Linked DNA regions of Homo sapiens: region 1 is linked to region 2. Evidence: fine-mapped expression QTL. A gene starts in region 2. The other region holds a variant in brackets. All regions are shown on one strand. Distances are from middle to middle.

Region 1 (9,551 bases), 19 kb after region 2:
TCAGCCTGGGCAACATGGCAAAATCCCGTCTCTACAAAAAATACAAATATTAGCCAGGCGTGATGGCACACACTTGTAGTCCCAGCTACTTGGGAGGCTGAGGTGGGAGGATCCCTTGAGTCTGGGAGGCGGAGGTTGCAGTGAGCCAAGATTTCACTGCACTCCAGCCTGGCTAAGAGTGAGACCCTGTCTGAAAAATGAAATAAAATAAAAAATAAAAATCCTTACAACAACCCTATGAGGTAGTTACTATTATCAGATTTTCCACTGAAGGAAACTGAGCATTAAAGAGATTAATCAGGCTGGGCGCCATGGCTCAGGCCTGTAATGCTAGCACTTTGGGAGGCCGAGGTGGGCGGATTGCCTGAGCTCAGGAGTTTGAGACCATCCTGGGCTACATGATGAAACCTCGTCTCTACTAAAAATACAAAAAATTAGCTGGGGGTGGTGGCGCACGCCTGTAATCCCAGCTACTTGGGAAGCTGAGGCACGAGAATTACTTCAAACCAGGAAGTGGAGGTTGCCGTGAGCCAAGATTGCACCATTGCACTCCAGCCTGGGTGACAGAGCGAGAAACTGAAAAAAAAAAAAAAAAAAAAAAGAGATTAATAAACTTGTAAATTTGTCCCAAGGTCAACAGGAGCCTAGGTTTGTCTGACCCCAGAGTCATTCTCTTAACTGCTATGCTGATTCAGTGTCCTCTCCCAAGAGGTCTTACACTTGACATGTCTGCATCTGAACTCATCTGTCCATTGCTTCGTATATGACTATAGGCAAGTGAGTGAATGTCTGAGCCATAGTTGTTCCACTTGCCCAAAGCCTGTCCTCCTCCCATGCTGTTTCAATAAACAGTCCTGCTGCCTCCCAGTCAACAGGAGCTGTACAAGACTCTTCCTTTTCCCTTCCCTCCCAACCACTCACTCATCAAGACATGGCGACTGTGTGCTCTAAAAGCCCCATTCTCCCTGCCCTGGGCCTAGTCCTCTCCTGTCCGGACACAGCAAGAGCTGGCTCTCAGGCCTTTCCTATCATTCAAAGAACCTTCCTTAGGCCTGCTCATTTTCTCAGCCACCATGGGTCCCACATTCTCTTCCCGCCTAGCCCTACTCTGCACAGCCCCCAGAGCAGTCTTTCCAACACACAAAGCTCACCAGGTCTCTCCAGCTCCCTGAACCCCTGATTCTGAGCAAAAGCTCCTGAACCTCAGCCTGGCTTTCAAAGCACAGACTGTGTGGTTCCACCTCCCCTGTAGCCACAGCGCCCACCCAACCCTCTCCTGAGCTCAGGAGCACCTGCACCATTGCGGGTCTTCCTGCCCATCCTTCCTCCCGCTCTGCCCTGCATGGGCAGGGGATGTCCTCTGCCTCTCCACAGTCTCAGCCCCACTCCCCATATGTGTTTTTCTAGTGACACTGCCCAGTGGTAGGCGTGCTAAGGTGTGCAAAATCAGTAATGTCTATTTTATAAAAACTATATGGTTGTGCAGTAACGTGAATGTGTTTAATGCCATAGAACTGCACACATAATAATGGTTAAAATGGTGGCTGGGCATGGTGGCTCACACCTGTAATCCCAGCACTTTTGGAGGCCGAGGCAAGAGGATTGCTTGAGCCCAGGAGTTTGAGACCAGCCTAGGCAACACAGGGAGACCCCATCTCTACAGAAAATTTAAAAATCAGCCGGACATGGTGGTGCATGCCTGTTGGGGACCAGCCTCAACACCACCCGTAGGGTACCTGAAGTCTGGTGGCGACAAAGGATTGAGAAGAGACAAGAGTTGAAAGGTGGGGAGCCCCGGGGGCCAGCTGCAAAATGGAGGCTGCAAAAGGCTCAGTGCTCTGGTCTCCACACTGTTGAGTACGATCACTTAGATCTGAGAAGCAGATGTTCAGGGCGAAACAGTGAAAGGGAGGCTATGCGTCATAGACGTAATCTATAGTAATAGCGGTTTAAATGAATCTCCTTTGTGCTCAAACAGCATATCTTTAACTTATCAGAGAGTAGCTAGTGGGAGTGGCTTAACTAGGAGCCTGCACATCTGTTCACCTTCCAGTGTTTCAAAGGAGTGTCTTTCTCCTTGAACAGTGTTTACAAATAAGAGAGTGTGTCTTGCTCTGAGCAGGGCAACATGATGGCAATTAGGAGGCTTTCCTTCTGAGAGGCCTTTTGTGGCTTTCCACAACTTATTGTCCCATATTTTTATGGCTAGTCTATGCAGGCACCCCATAAGCCTTTTTCCCAACACATGCCTGTAGTCCCAGCTACTCAGGAGGCTGAGGTGGGAGGATTGCTTGAGTCCAGGAGGTTGAGGCTGCAGTGAGCCATGATTGCACCACTGCACTCCATCCTGGGCAACAGAGCGAGGCCCTGTCTCAAAAAAAAAAAAAGGGGGTTAAAATGGTAAAACAAAACTAAATATAAATGCCTCCCTCAGGGTTCTAGTCCCTGGAGCGAGTAGATAGGTCATGATTGGGCCCTCTCCTCACCCCATCTTCCCCAGCTTACAGAGGGCCTGGGTATTTTATGCTGTGATCCCCATGGGCTCTGCTGAGATGCCCCTGTTGGGAGATCAATGTCCAGGAGCCTCCCTTCCTAAGCCCACCCTGCTCCCACTCCTGGGGTACAATTAGGGAGTATTAGTGGGTCCCCCCTGCCCATGCAACCACAGACTCAGTCTTTTAGTGTGTGTGTCGGGGGGTCTGGATTGCTTCACCTCCTCTCCCTTCGCCTTAGCATAGTCCTCTCAAGAAGTTTAGGTTTCCAGAAGGTCAGGGTCAGGAAGATGGCTGTGGTTGACTTCAGCTTTGGGCCTGAGATCCTCCCTACAAGAGACAAGGAGAAAAAAAAAAAAAGCCTGACCAGACCTTCTGCACGAGACAGGAAAGGGAAGATTGTGACTGGAGCAAAACTCAGTTAACATCCTTGTGAGTCATCCTGGCACACCAGCTCCTGCAGCAGGCAGTCCAGCCCCTTGAGGGCAGAAATCAAAAGGTGTCCTTCCCTGCATATGCAGACACACACTGACAAACATGCATACATACAACCCACAAAGCAGAGACACATACATACAAGCAAAGATGTATGTACAGACAAGCCTACCCACAGACACAGGCCTGCACATAAAAACACATCCACACAGAAACACACATGATTACACCAACTACACACATACCACATGGCCGGGAAAACACATGAAGAGATTCACAGGCCTCCATCTCTCCCTTTCTTTCACACACACACACACACACACGCAAAGATAAGCCTACCCAGAGTCACTAGTAGGTGTCAACAAATGTGTTCTAGACCAATGACTAAAGGAAGAAGTCAGAGAAGTCAGAGATAGACACAGATCAGTTTTCTAGAGATTGGAAGAATGTGTGTATATGGAGGAGGACAGACTGGTGGGAGAGAAAGCCAGGTAAACATAGGGAAGGGAGAGATCCTAGCGCCAAGAAAGGAGGGTCTTGGGTAATTATCAGGCGCCAACCTCTCGCCCAGCCCTCCTTGATTCATCTATGCATTAACAGTTACTGAGCTGAGTCCTCTGTTGGGCCCCAGGCCTATCCTCACATATGCACAGCCGGGGAGGAAGAGAGACCTGTCCATGAGGAACTATCACACAGACTGGCATGTGCCACGTTGGGGGATGCACAGCCCAGCCCCACTCTGGGCAGCAGTGGAGGGCAGATGTCAGGGAAACGTGAGTGAAATGTTGAACATGTAGGAGTTGGCTGGATGAAGGGGATGGATGGGGAGGTCACCTTGGGCCAAGGAAACAGGTGTAAACATTCGTTTCCTTTTGCTGCTGTAACAAATTACCATAAATGTAGTGGCTTCAATACAAAAATTAGCCGGGCACCTGTAGTCCCAGCTACTTGGGAGGCTGAGTCAGGAGAATCGCTTGAACCTGGGAGGCGGAGGTTGCAGTGAGCTGAGATCGTGCCACTGCACTCCAGCCAGGGTGACAGAGAGAGACTCAGTCTCAAAAACGAAAACAGAAAAACAAAAAACTACACAGATTTATTTGCTTACAATTGACTGTTCAGAGGTCTGAAATCAGTTTTTGTGGGCTAAAGTCAATGTGTTGGCAGAGCTGGTTCCTTCTGTAGGCTCCAAGAGGAGAATGCATTTCCTTGCCTTTTCAGTATCTAATGGCTGCCTGCATTCCTTGGCTTGTGGACCAGTACTCCATCCTCAAAGCACAGCACTCCAGTCTCTGCTTCCATCATTCCACTGCTGTCTTCCCTGACTCCTCCTGCCTCCCTCTCTCCTGTTGGAATCATTGCGATTATATCACCACACCTCAGATAATCCAGGATAGTCTTCTCAAGATCCTTGACCACATCTGCAAAGTCTCTTTTGCCATATAAGGTAACATTCACAGGTTCTGGGAATTAGGATGTGGACATCTTGGGGGCCATTATTCAGCCTACCACGAGGGGAGTGGCATATTATCTCACAGTCTTTAAAATGCCCTCCAATTTTGTTATTACCAGGCTGAAGATAAGGAATTGGAGGCTCATAGAAGTTAAGTGATTTGCCTTAGACAGGCAGACAGGTAGATAAATGATAAATGTTTTCTAAAATAGACAAAAGAATACAAAGAAAAATGCAACAAAGCACTCAAAACCTCACCACCCAGAAATGATCAGTATTACGTTTTGTAACCATATACATAATACATAAAATTGAGGAGAGAGGTTAGAGAGAGAGCCAGTCAGGTAGAAAAAATATCTAAGAATGGGACTGTTCTCATAGTCCTAATGGGATATACTATAGAAACTATTTTTTTAGGCCAGGTGCAGTGGCTCACGACTGTAATCCCAGCACTTTGGGAGGCCGAGGCGGGCGGATCACGAGGTCAGGAGATCGAGACCATCCTGGCTAACACGGTGAAACCCTGTCTCTACTAAAAATACAAAAAAATTAGCCGGGCGCGATGGCGGGCACCTGTTGTCCCAGCTACTCGGGAGGATGAGGCAGGAGAATGGCATGAACCCAGGAGGCGGAGCTTGCAGTGAGCCGAGATCACGCCACTGCACTCCAGCCTGGGCGACAGAGTGAGACTC[T/C]GTCTCAAAAAAAAAAAAAAAGAAAAAGAAACTATTTTTTTAACCAAAAGTAGAAAATGTACGTTTACTTGAGTTTAATAGAGAAAAAAAGAAACTGAAGCGAAAATGGAATAGCTGAAATATTTCTTCACCTTAAAAGAGTAGTCATTCCTAAAAGACCTCTCTCAAGAGCCATTTCAATTAAGAGATTGGGCCAGGCGCAGTGGCTCACGCCTGTAATCCCAACACTTTAGGAGACCTAGGCAGCAGGATCACTTGAGCCCAGGAGTTCGAGACCAGTCTGGGCAACATGGAGAGACCCTGTCTTTACAAAAATTTAAAAATTAGCCAGGCATGGTGGCACATGCCTGTGGTCCCAGCTACTCGAAGGCTGAGGTGGAAGGATTGCTTGAGACCAGGAGGTCGAGGCTGCAGTGAGCTGTGATAGCACCATGTCACTCCAGCCAGAACAACAGAGCAAGACCCTGCCTCAAAAAAAAAAAAAAAAAAAAAAAAAGAAAAGAAAAGGAGGTTGGAGTAGGATTTTACCATTATATTCTAGTTTTATCCCTTTATTGACTTAGCTATGAACGAAGATGTGATTAGTACTTCTGCTTTCCTTGCTACCTCACCTCTCCATTCCAGACTGTGCATATAACTTTCGACTCCCCTGACATTACTAATAGCCCACTGTTGACGAGAAGCCTTATTAATAACATAAACAATTGATTTGCACATATTTTTTATGTTATATATATTATATACTGTATTCTTAAAGCTAGAGAAAAGAAAATATTAAGAAAATGATAAGGAAGAAATAATTTATTAATATTTACTATTCATTAAGTGGAAGTGGATCATCATAAAGGTCTTCATCCTCGTCTTCATGTTGAGGAGGCTGAGGAGGAGGAGGAAAAGGAGGGGTTGGTCTTGCTGCCTCAGGGGTGGCAGAGGCAGAAGAGGGAGAGGAAGGCAGGAGAGGCAGGCACTCTTGGTGTAACTTTTATTGATTTTACTTAATCTGTGAATAAGTGGACCTGCACAGTTCAAACTCGTGTTGTTCAAAGGTCAACTGTATTTACAGTGTTTTGCAACGAAAATTCCCACAGTGTCATCTTCGCTGAAATTGAATTAAGGTTAATTCCTACGTGGAATTAATGTCCCCACCAGTTCTTTACCATGAATTTCCCTTCCTCAGCTCCTGACCTTGACTAATCTCTTGGCTGAATGGATTTTGTCTTTTCTGGAAAGGTTCATGAGTACACCATCCCCCAAATTTATGATTGAGATCACCCACTCTGTTGGTTACGGTTTAGGGTGACACTTTTTCCCCTCAGAACTCTGTAGATATTGCTTCATTGTCTTCACTTGTCAAATGCTACCTTGGAGAAATCTGAGACCAGACTGAATATCCCCCCTTGTAAATAAATGACTTGCTTCTTCTGTCTAGGTGCCTTAAGTATTCTTACTTTAGCCCCAAAGTTTGGTAACTAAACCAATGTATCTTTTTTCTTTTTTAGACGGAAGGGTCTCACTATGTTGCCCAGGCTGGCCTCAAACTCCTGTGCTCAAGTGATCCTCCCGCCTAAGTCTCCCAAAGTGGTGGCATTACAGATGTGAGCCACCTCACCCAGCCAAATCAATGTGTCTTAATATCAATTACTCTGTGTCAACTTTTCTGGTATACAGTATGCCCCTTTCAATCTGAATATTCAGTTCTTTCATTTCAGGGGAAGATTTCTGTATTTTGTACCTTAATATCATTTTAAGTTCCATTTTTGGAACCCCTACTTTAGGGCTGTTAATAGTTGAGCTTATGGTAGCTTGTCTTTGTCCTATTACCTTCTCTCCAATTGCTTTAGTAGCTTTATCTTTTCCCACGACATTTACTCTTAATATCTCAAGCCTTTCCTATTACTTTGATTTTTAACCACTATTTAATGGTTAAAGCCTATTAATATCTATTATATTAATATTGATTGTTTCTCTGTTTCTAGTTTATTACATCTTTAAAAATAAGATTTCAGTCCTCTTTTACTTGCTTCTCTAATATCCCTTTCATCTAATTCATTGTTTTATCATCTTGCCTGAGTTCTTTGTTCTCCTGATTTCATGCTATTAAAAAGGCCTTCTATAAAAGGAAAGATTTGCCAGGACTCTGCTTTTATTCCTTTGGGTGTGTTTTCTTCTAGATCGGGGTCTTCATCGGTTGTTGTTTTCTTTTCATCATCTTTCTTGCTCCCTTCCTTCTTTCTCTCCCTCCTCCTTTCCTTTCTTCCATCGTCTCTCCTTCCTGCCTCCATTTTGACCGTGGTCTTGGTGTCTAAAGGCCATGCCATTTCCTTTCCTCTTACTCCTCTCTGCCATGGCCCATGTTTAGCCGACCTCTCCTTGCCCTGGTGTGCAGGCCCTGGAGCCCCTTCCCATCTTGTCTGGGCCCATTTGTCTCCCCTGGAGCCTATGGTTTGCACGCTGGCTGTTGCTTTCAAACTGTGCCCACCTCTGCCCCCGTGACGTCTATGGCCTGAGGGTGCCTGGCTAGGGCTGCCTGCTGCCCTTGATGGGGCCTAAGTGCTGTCCCTCCTCTGAGGCCCTGTTAGACATCTTGTTCCAACTGGTGGGCGGGGCATAACCCATTCCTGTAGGCACTGGTTTGTCCCCGCCAACCCCTGTCCCATCCCCTGGAAGACACCAAGCCATGGCAGCTCTCCTTGCTTCTACTGAGGTCTCATGGAGAAACACAAGGTCTTCTCCTTACAAAGGCTTTTTCCCAGACTTTTCCTAAGCCTGCCTACGCACCCAGTAGTCCACTTCTCTTAGATGACAGGATATTGTGTTTCATGGACTCACCTTTTTGGGAATGGGGTTAGGAGACATACTACTCACTCACTGCACCAGAATCTTCTGTTGTTTCTTTGCATGTCACATTTTAAGGTTTATAAAAAGGATTTCCTTGTTTGCTTGGACTTAGTGAGTTTGTAGTAGCGTTGTTGTTTTTGTTTGTTTTGGCTTGTGTTCATTTTATTAGAGGGAGGTGGGGTGGGGGGCTTCTGTGACGGTGTTACTTTGTCTCATTAACTCAGTGGTCCCCACCTTGCTTTGTCCATACCTCTCCCCTTGGACCGGCCCCTCTGGCAGCCCCAGCCCCCAGCACTTTCAAGTTCCTGGGATGAGACAAGGGCCCATAGAATTAGGCCTCAGCGCACAGTGGGTTTCAGTCCAAGGAAGAGAGGGAATAAGCAGGAAGCATTTCATGGAGACAGAGTCAGAGGGAACTCAAATGCTTCTCAGGAGGGCATCTGGGCAGAAACACAGCATGAACCAAGGCATGGATGTAGGAGAGGATGGGAACAATTACTGGGGAGCAGGAGGAGTCCAGCTGGAGGAGTGCCAGCTGGAGAAGCCAGGGAGAGGCTGGAGTGGTGGGCAGGCAGGGTCCAGGCAGGGGCTGCCCTTGCTATGACCAAAGCACTTAGCTCTTGGGTCTGGAATCTCAGGGATACTAATGGTGGGCGGGGCAGGTGTAGTAGGGAAGCCTGGTTCCCATTTCTCCTCCCCATCCTCAGCCCCTCCCAGAGACCTTCCTCTGAGTGCTACTCTCCCAGTGCCCCCTTGTCCTGGTAATGCCCAAGGTGTTCCTGCTGTCGTCCTGAGAGCCGCAGGTAAAGCCTCAGCCATGGCCACACCAGGCACACGCCATCACACACGAATGTAGCACATATGCATCCCTGGTCACCTAGCCACAGTAAAACAAACATGGTGCACAGCTGCATACCATCACTGCCATTTGCACGTGACGGCTCAGTGACACATGCTGTTGTGGGCATACTTTGCACACAGCCCCACAGTCCGGCTCCTTCTCTGGGTCGGTTGCTTCTGAATTTCCTGAGAACCTGTCCTGCCCCCTGGTGGCCATTCCCCAAGCCACTGCCCCTCTGGAAGGACCCCTTCTACCTCCTTCTTGCCTTCTGGCCTAGAACAGGCTCTTCCCTCAAACTGGAACTATGAGACCAGGCCCCTCAGACATCCTCCAGACCAGTCTCCCCCATCGGACATCCTCCAGACCAGCCTCCCCCCATCAGACATCCTCCAGACCAGCCTCCTTGCTCAGACGTCCTCCAGACCACCCTCCCCCCTCAGAAGTCCTTCAGACCAGCCTCCCCACTCAGACTGGTGCTGTCAGGCAAGGCCTTCCCAAACAGGGTGATCGACGTCCCAGTTTGCCTGGGACTGAGGGGTTTCCAGAGACTTGAGATATTCAGTGCTAAAACTGGGAAAGTTCAGGCAGACTAGAACTAGTTGGCGGTTCTAGTCTTTGGATCCATGTGCCTTCAGCTCAGTCTCCCCTCAGACTGGACCCACCAGACCAGGCCCTTTCAGACACCCCTGGGTCAGCTTACCCCTCAGGCTGGCCCTTTCAAACGAAAGCTCTTCTGATGCGTGTCCCAGACCCGCTCTGGCTCAGGCTCACCCTGTCGCGTGGGCCCTCTCAGACCCACTCAC
Region 2 (9,551 bases):
ACTCCCAGGGGATGGGGTGAAGCCAAGAAGAGAACCCAAGCTTAATTTAGGAAGGAGAGAGGGAAGAGAGAGAAAAAGAGCTTTTTTGTGCTCTGCCTGCAGAGGGTAGAGGTGAGCTAGGTAGTGGCAAAAAGGCACTGGGCTGCAAGCGGATAGGGGAGAAAATTTGGGAGCAGGTATGGGGTCACAGCAGGGGGAAATCTGAGCTCCACATGGTGACAGCAGCCAAAAAGGAGCCAGGGAAGGGCCTACTGGCCCTGCACTCACCCCTCCCCATCCCCTTTACAGCCCTGGCCAGACCAAGGTAAGGCTGGGGTAGGTGTCAGTGAGCAGTGGGCACAGGTGGCTGAGAGGATGGGGGCCCAGGAGCACAGCGAAGGCAGGAAATGGGGAAATGGCAACTGCCCAGCCTGCCCCAGCACAGCCCTCACCCCCCTGCCTGGACAGCAGGGAGGGTGGGACTGGTGCTGGTCTGCCAAGGAGTTCTCAGGACCTGTGGGTGACACACACTCCAGTGTCCAACTTATAATGGAAGGATTGGAGTGCTTTGCAGGTAGGGTGTTGGGTCATAAACTCAGGATCTGGTCTTCTAAAGGACAACCTCAGCCAACGACACCTGGAGTCACATGGACTATTCCCTCTGCCCTTATGGGTCTCTTGACACTCTTCCCAACCCTGGGTATGTCTGACACAGCAGGTCTCGCCCCAAATAGCACCCACTGCCAACCTGACCTGAAGGCATCAGGTGAGAGGACTAGGTGAGGTCCGGGCCCCTGAGGCTCTGTCCACAGCCCCTCCCTCCCCAAACACATACCCATTAGCTCCTTGATAGGTCTCGGCCAGGGACCTTCCCATGGTAAGGATGGTGCCAGCAGTCAGCCCCCCGCCTTCGCAGAGCTGGATTTCCCTGGCCTGGAAGGTTGTTCCCCTGAGGGTCAGGGAATGGATGCCTTTTCCCACTCCCACAAGCATCAAGACCCCATGTCCATCTGAGGTTCAAGCCAGAGCTGGACTCCTTTTTGCAAGCTGTCAGCTGAGCCCCTGTGTCACCTAACCCGAGTTGGGGAATGATCGTGTCAGGGAGAGGGGAGGCAGGGATCCAGAATTTACTGGGCAGGGGAGGGGTAGGGCACAGCTGGACAGGCTGGGCAGAGGAGGTGGTGCTGGGACCCAGAGAGGGGGGGCCCACCATTCCTCCCTCATGTATACTTTCCCTCTCCCCAGGAAAAGAAGGGGCAGGAGGTGCAGAAGGGTCCAGCTGTGGAGATTGCGAAACTGGACAAACTGCTGAACCTGGTGAGGGAAGTGAAAATCAAGACCTGAGGGGCTGGCCTCAGTCTCTGTCCCATCGCTTGAATACAGTACTCCTAGGGCTTGACCCTGGTACCCAGCCCAGCCTTAGCACCCAGCATGTGACCCCACTCCTGATCAGGTCCCAGCATCTTCCCTTCTTGTTCTGTTCCTTAAGGTCCCAGCACCTTACCCCAGGACTTGGTCTTCAACCACCATTACCCCTCTAACTTTGCACAAATAAACCTGTGTAGAAACCCACCCCACACCTTTAATTGTGCTACCACAGGGCCCTCAGGAAGAGAAGAAAACCTCAGGGTAGAGCCATAGTTCCATTTATTATCCAGCAAACACTGGGAGGACCAGGGGAGGGGCCCAGCCTGGACACCCTCCTATTATTGCCATGGGTTCCAGTTTGCTTCCCCAGCCTAGAGGGCCTAGAGGTGCTCAGCCTAGGGAAAGAGTGGACCCGGCCCCTGACCCTTGGCCCTTGGGATGGAGCATAGTCCAGATGGCCCTGGCTCTAGCACCAACTCATAAGCCCCCACCCCAGGCCCATCTCCTTAGGGCCACTGAGCTCCTATTGGAGCCAAGCTGGCTAGACTCTGGGCCGCTGGGTCCAGCTCCAAGCAGGCGGACTCTTGAGTTCTGGACCCCAGGCTGGCTGAACTCTGGGATCCTAATTCCAGGCTCTAGGTGAGGTGGACTTAGGTCCTGGGCTCCAGGCTAGGCCAGGGGCCTTCAGGGCTGCAGCAGGTAGCTGCCTTCATGGCTGGGCTTCTGGGGTGGTGGGGCCTTCTCAGGACAGGGGCCAGGGCTGGAGTTGGGACTGGATTCAGAGAGAGAGTCAACGTCGGCAGAGCGAGAATGGCAGGCCCAGCAGAGGATGACCCAGAGCAGCAGCAGCAAGAAGCCCACGAGACCGTTGCAGACGATGGCGATGAGGGCCCCCTGGGAGATGGCTGCCCCCATGACAGGCAGCACCCTCAGACCAGCACAGACAGTGGAGCTGCCTCAATGGTGAGGCCCATGCCGAGGCAGGACTCTGGTATGGCCGGCCTTCAGAGGAGGCTGTGCTGTCTGCACGCTCAGTGATTCCTGGGCAGTGGAGATGTCTACCTGCAGTCCTGAGCCTGTTGGGGGTATACAGTAAAGGAGAGGGTGGTGAGGAGGAAGGGTGGGGTGAGGCCTAGGAGGAGAGAGGTAGGGAAGAGAGCCTCCCTCCCACATTTCTGGCCTCCCTGGTGAAAGACCTTGGGTCCCAACAGGCTCGAATACCCCACAGAGCCATCACCCCCATCCACAGGCTTGGTTCTGGCCACCTGAATGAGTGTGTAGCCACCGTGGGGAAGCTGCAGTAGGCAGCCGTCATCTCATTCTCCTTAGACCTGGTGGGCATGCCCTGGTCCTGCCCACCAAGCTTGCAGCCCTCAAAAGCCCTCTGTTGGTGGGTGGGATCCAGGAAGCCCCCAGCCCAAAAGGATGGGGGTTGTAAGCAGCTCTGGTGTGGCCTGGGCGCCTCCTCTCTCCCAGGACTCCAGCCAGCCCGACCAGGAGACCTCCAGAGGCGCCAGCTTGCACAGAGGGAACTTTGTGGAGGCCCTGGCAGGCATGTGCAGGCTCTGTGCGTCCAGGGCTGTGTGCCTCTATGTGGGGCTGCCTCTCTGGGTCAGGTGTGTGTGTGTGTCTGGTGTCTCACTGTCCCTCCGTTGGATGTGTGCCTGTGCCTCTGCACACCCACCTCTGTGTGTGTGGCTGCCTCTCCGTGTGTCCCCATCTCTGAGTATGTCTCCTCTATGTCTCATTTCTCTACCAGTGTGTCTCTGTGTATCTCTGCATCAGTCTCTGTGTCTCTCTCTCTCTTCCAGGCTGTATCCCCCTCTGTTCCCATGGACGTGTCCCTATCCCCTTCTCCGTGGGGTCTTTTCGGTGGTTCCTGTGTCTCTGTCTTTGTGTTCGTCTCTCTCCGCGGCAGTGTGTCTCTGTCTCTTTATCTCCATCTTCGGGTCGCGTGTTCTTGGCCCCCGTGCCCGTGGCGGGAGGCCCTTCTTACCTGAGTTGAGCCTGGTGCGCGCCCGCGGGAGGGTCCGGGGCAGCGGGATGCTCGGCGCCGACTAAGGCTTGGGAGCCTGCGGGCGGGGGGCGGCGGGAGGTGGGAGACCAGCAGAGGCGACGTCCGCTCCCCCGGCCCTCCCCCTCGGCCGCGCAGCCTCCACCGGCCGCTCCCGCCGCGGCGCGACCGGGGCGGCCTCTGCCGCGGGCGGTCTGCGGTGAGCGGGCACCTCCTCCCCTTGGGGCCGCACCTCCTCCGCGGCCGCGGCGCTCGCTCGCTCGGCAGCGCTCGGGCGGCGGCGGCGGGAGCTGCGCGGTGTTCGGCTGGGCTCGGCTGCGTTCGGTTGGGCTCGGCTGGGCTCGGCTACGTTCGGCTGGGCTCGGCCGGGCTCGGCGGCCAGCAAAAACAGCGAAGAGCCTCGCCTCCTGGGAGGCCGGCGGCCTGCGGCCCGGGGGCGGAGCCATCCCAGCGCCGCTGCCGCCACTCAATTGGCTGGCCGAACCCCGGTTCCCGCACCATTGGTGGTGCGCTGAGGTGGGGACCAGCCCGCCTCTCGTGCCGGCGCGGGGCGGGAGGAGGGCCGAAGGAGTAGCTGGCCCTGGATCCTTCCCGGGAGAGGGGATGGGGTGGGGGCAAGGCCTAACCTCTGGTAGGGATTTCTTGCACCTTCTACACCTGGAAGGGTTGTACACCCCACATCCGAGAAAGGCCAAGGCCTCTGCATTTCCACATGTGAGGAAACCACCCCTCTGTATCTGGGAGAGGTCTCTTAAGTAAGTCATCCGGAGGAAGGCCCCGCGTCCCCACACCTGGCAGGAGACTGAATCTCCTCACCTAGGGAACCGCCTATAGTGCAGTCCCGCACTTCCCTCTGCCACCTGGGTGTGGACTCTGCATTCCCACTTTAGAGGGCCCCAGGTTCCCTGGCCCTAAGAGGTGTGAAAATCTCTGGCAACACAGGTTCTTTGGACACATTTACTGAGTTCCTACCCAGTGTTGGTCGCAGGCTTGCTGCCAGGCTGTTGGGGAGTCTGGGACAGAAATGGAGTGTCCTGAGCGATGGTTCTGCCCTGGCTGGAATAGGTGCAGGCGTGGTGGAAATCCTGCCTTGCCATCCTAAAAGCTCCCCTAAGAAGAAGATAGCTTGGACAGGAGCAGTGAGGTAGACCTTGTCCTCCCCGACCTTCACAGGCCAGTGATTGTCACCTATTCTGATCCGGCCGTCTTCTCATCCCGCTCTACATGCTCTCCTTGGAGGATCACATCCCTGAAGCTATATCATGAAGACTCCCAGTGCTCCCAAGTCTAGCCTTAACTTCTCTCTGGAATCCTAGACTCATATAACTAAGTGCCTACTGTAATCGGGGCAGTATTGATTCCTGGTTCACTTACTAACTTTGTGATCTTGAGCAAGTTACTAAATCTCTCTTAGCCTCAGCTTCCTCATCTGTAAAATGGTTGTAATGCTACCTCTCAGGGTTGTTATTCACTAATTTATAGCAGATCGATCACATCTCAGCAAATGCCAGCTGACACAACCCCCAGGACCATGTGACTAAGAGGCCCCTTCCCCCAATCCAATGCCATGAAATTCACATAAGACCCCTGTAAATCCAGATGCTATCTTGAAAGAAGAAAGGGAAGACTGAGTCATCCAAAGCTACCAAAGTACTTAGAGACTGTCTAAAATAAATTATTGGATCCTATAGAGTTTACCAGAGTGGATTACTTTTAGCTCCCCCCCACTGCCCATTACCCAGCAGGGTGAGGGCATTGTGAGAAAGATCAGCCTAGTTATAGGAAACAGAGGAGACTTAAATCATCGCACATCTGAGTGTAATGTGAGCGAATTTTGTGACCCAGCTGCAGGAGTTCAGATTTTATCCTGAAAACAGTGGGGAGCCACTGAAGAATTTTTGAGCAGAAGAGTAATGCGATCATATCCAGAAATTAGTAGGATGATTTGGGCTATGGTGTGGAATGGGGGCTTGAAAGCATTTGAGAGTGAAGGCAAGGATTAATAATAAGGGACTGAAATGATGGAAGGAAAAAGTTGTAGAGAGAAAAGGAGAGCATTGAGGATATTTGGGAGCTGCTGCTGGTGGGACTTAGAGAACTAGAGGATAGGGGAGGTAAGCAGGAAGGAAAAGTCTGGGATGACTCCCGGGTTAGTGACGAGGGATGCTGTGATGCCATTTACTGAATACACAGGTTCAGGAGAGAGGTCCAGGCTAAAGATAATATTTTGTGAGTTGTCAGCAAAAGAATGGTAGTTAAATGAGAAAAATAGATGAGCTCACCCAGGGAGAGAGATAACTAGTTTAAGCAAAAAGATAAATTTATAATCAGATACGGAAACCTAAGGGCAAGGATGACTCAGGAACAACTGAAACTAAGAGATCAAAAGCCACCCAGAAGAGTTCTCTCTCTACCTCTCAACTCTGTTACTTTCTGCCTGCCTCCATTTCCCTCCCCTGTCCCAAGTCCCTGTCCTCCCCATCCCCAGACTGACTTCCAATATGCTTCTAGACCACATGGTAAAAAACGGGACTTCAGACAATTCTAAAGTTTTAAAGCTTGTTGTGTAGGCATCCAAAGAGACTGGCTGCTGCCAGCTCCTCCTCATCCTCCTCATCCTCCTCCTTTCTTTTTTTTTTTTTTTTTTGGTTTGCAAAATTTTCAGGAAATATTTTGATTCAACTTAGATGCTTACCTTTGGACTAATCAATGGTGGTCAAGGGATGAAGATCAAATTGATTAACATGATAACGCTATGGGCAGTGGGGAGGTGGAGGTGGTGGTTTCCAGGGGAAGCAGCATCATAAAGAAGCAAAATGGCAGGTGTCCATACAGTCCACCCTTTGTTTGCCCAACACATATACATCATTTCCTATTATATGATTCCAAAAAGGCCCTCATCTACATAATCCAATCATCCCACGATACAAATGCCAATAAATTTGCCTCCTTTCCAGTGAAGAACAATTCAGTGACACATCCAGCTGCTGCTTCTGGAGATCATAGCACAGATCAGGACCACTGTTCTTCAGATATAGGTTCTCCAGGTAATGTCCCTTCATGCTCTAGTGAGGTCTCCATGAGGTATGAAATGTGGCTTCTAATAATCCCACTACCTTTTAACTGCCTTTGAACTATCTTTAAACTACTCCCCCTATGAAAAAGTCCTGATATGTAGAGATACAAGAAATAGAGAATAAAATGGGGTGAAAAGGAAGCACTGTGCATTGGTCACTAATCCAGAACATCATCTACTGTAGATGTTTTTGGCCATGAGTAATAATGAAATGATAGGACTAGCAAATCTCATGGCATCTGTTTGTTGACTTGCTCCTTTGGCTGTGGAGTTCCTTGGTCGGCCAATCTGGCTGCCTTAATTTTTGCCCACAAGGTAGAGATCCCTTATCCAGTGTTTTGAGAGGGTCATTATGGAGGATTTCTCTGTGCGGCACTGTACTGATTAGCACTACACCTTCTGGTGGTGTTTTACAGATTATCCTGGGATTGAACAACCACAGAGCTCTACACTTAGGAGGATTGGATAAGGGCTTTTCCCTCAATAGATTATGCAATTATTTTAAAACCATAATCAGCTGCCTATCAATTTCATTTGGAGAAATTCCATCTGCTAATAACATGTTTGATTGGTTCTAAGGTGTACTTTTTTCCCCCAGTTTAAACAAATATGTAATCAGAATGTGTCTTACAATTAATAGCATGTAATCATTTTTTCACCTCTTATTTTTTTTTCTTTTTTCTTTTTTTTATTATTATACTTTAAGTTTTAGGGTACATGTGCACAATGTGCAGGTTTGTTACACATGTATACATGTGCCATGTTGGTGTGCTGCACCCATTAACTTGTCATTTACATTAGGTATGTCTCCTAATGCTATCCCTCCCCCCTCCCCCCACCCCACAACAGGCCCCGGTGTGTGATGTTCCCCTTCCTGTGTCCAAGTGTTCTCATTGTTCAGTTCCCACCTATGAGTGAGAACATGTGGTCTTTGGTTTTTTGTTCTTGCGATAGTTTGCTGAGAATGATGGTTTCCAGCTTCATCCATGTCCCTACAAAGGACATGAACTCATCATTTTTTATGGCTGCATAGTATTCCATGGTGTATATGTGCCACATTTGCTTAATCCAGTCTATCATTGTTGGACATTTGGGTTGGTTCCAGGTCTTTGCTATTGTGAATAGTGCCACAATAAACATACGTGTGCATGTGTCTTTATAGCAGCATGATTTATAATCCTTTGGGTATATACCCAGTAATGGGATGGCTGGGTCAAATGGTATTTCTAGTTCTAGATCCCTGAGGAATCACCACACTGTCTTCCACAATGGTTGAACCAGTTTCCAGTCCCACCAACAGTGTAAAAGTGTTCCTATTTCTCCACATCCTCTCCAGCACCTGTTGTTTCCTGACTTTTTAATGATCGCCATTCTAACTGGTGTGAGATGGTATCTCATTGTGGTTTTGATTTGCATTTCTCTGATGGCCAGTGATGATGAGCATTTTCTCATGTGTCTGTTGGCTGCATAAATGTCTTCTTTTGAGAAGTGTCTGTTCATATCCTTCACCCACTTGTTGAGGGGGTTTTTTCTTGTAAATTTGTTTGAGTTCTTTGTTGATTCTGGATATTAGCCCTTTGTCAGAGGAGTAGATTGCAAAAATTTTATCCCATTCTATAGGTTGCCTGTTCACTCTGATGTTAGTTTCTTTTGCTGTGCAGAAGCTCTTTAGTTTAGTTAGATCCCATTTGTCAATTTTGGCTTTTGTGGCCATTGCTTTTGGTGTTTTAGACATGAAGTCCTTACCCATGCCTATGTCCTGAATGGTATTGCCTAGGTTTTCTTCTAGGGTTTTTATGGTTTTAGGTCTAACATTTAAGTCTTTAATCCATCTTGAATTAATTTTTGTATAAGGTGTAAGGAAGGGATCCAGTTTCAGCTTTCTACATATGGCTAGCCAGTTTTCCTAGCACCATTGGTTAAATAGGGAATCCTTTCCCCATTTCTTGTTTTTGTCAGGTTTGTCAAAGATCAGATAGTTGTAGATGTATGGTATTATTTCTGAGGGCTCTGTTCTGTTCCATTGGTCTATATCTCTGTTTTGGTACCAGTACCATGCTGTTTTGGTTACTGTAGCCTTGTAGTATAGTTTGAAGTCAGGTAGCGTGATGCCTCCAGCTTTGTTCTTTTGGCTTAGGATTGACTTGGCAATGCGGGCTCTTTTTGGTTCCATATGAACTTTAAAGTAGTTTTTTCCAATTCTGTGAAGAAAGTCATTGGTAGCTTGATGGGGATGGCATTGAATCTATAAATTACCTTGGGCAGTATGGCCATTTTCACAATATTGATTCTTCCTATCCATGAGCATGGAATGTTCTTCCATTTGTTTGTATCCTCTTTTATTTCGTTGAGCAGTGGTTTGTAGTTCTCCTTGAAGAGGTCCTTCACATCCCTTGTAAGTTGGATTCCTAGGTATTTTATTCTCTTTGAAGATATTGTGAATGGGAGTTCACTCATGATTTGGCTCTCTGCCTGTCTGTTATTGGTGTATAAGAATGCTTGTGATTTTTGCACATTGATTTTGTATCCTGAGACTTTGCTGAAGTTGCTTATCAGCTTAAGGAGATTTTGGGCTGAGACGATGGGGTTTTCTAGATATACAATCATGTCATCTGCAAACAGGGACAATTGGACTTCCCCTTTTCCTAATTGAATACTGTTTATTTCTTTCTCCTGCCTGATTGCCCTGGCCAGAACTTCCAACACTATGTGGAATAGGAGTGGTGAGAGAGGGCATCCCTGTCTTGTGCCAGTTTTCAAAGGGAATGCTTCCAGTTTTTGCCCATTCAGTATGATATTGGCTGTGGGTTTGTCATAGATAGCTCTTATTATTTTGAGATACGTCCCATCAGTACCAAATTTATTGAGAGTTTTTAGCATGAAGGGCTGTTGAATTTTGTCAAAGGCCTTTTCTGCATCTGTTGAGATAATCATGTGGTTTTTGTCATTGGTTCTGTTTATATGCTGGATTACATTTATTGATTTGCGTATGTTGAACCAGCCTTGCATCCCAGAGATGAAGCCCACTTGATCATGGTGGATAAGCTTTTTGATGTGCTGCTGGATTTGGTTTGCCAGTATTTTATTGAGGATTTTTGCATCGATGTTCATCAA

The links. PIP is the estimated chance that this variant, and not a neighbour inherited with it, causes the effect. A credible set is the group of variants that fine-mapping cannot tell apart.
Region 1: its variant is the best candidate, but not a certain one, in a credible set for the expression of ENHO in liver (GTEx, PIP 0.80).

What each region holds. Positions count from the first base shown.
Region 1 is chr9:34,538,122-34,547,672 of GRCh38, forward strand. No RefSeq gene overlaps it. Among named protein-coding and RNA genes, the nearest start is that of ENHO, 20 kb to the left of the region's middle. RefSeq lists an enhancer at 8,676-9,175 and a silencer at 8,771-8,850. The variant T/C (reference allele first, on the strand shown) is at 5,070.
Region 2 is chr9:34,519,434-34,528,984 of GRCh38, forward strand. It overlaps ENHO (energy homeostasis associated), which reads right to left and starts at 3,557. Exons shown (of 2, transcript NM_198573.3): 1 at 3,344-3,557; 2 at 1,610-2,423. The coding sequence starts at 2,262. The coding sequence ends at 2,032. It overlaps DNAI1 (dynein axonemal intermediate chain 1), which reads left to right. Exons shown (of 20, transcript NM_012144.4): 20 at 1,225-1,551. The coding sequence ends at 1,323. RefSeq lists an enhancer at 2,301-2,853 and silencers at 3,483-3,592, 3,613-3,982.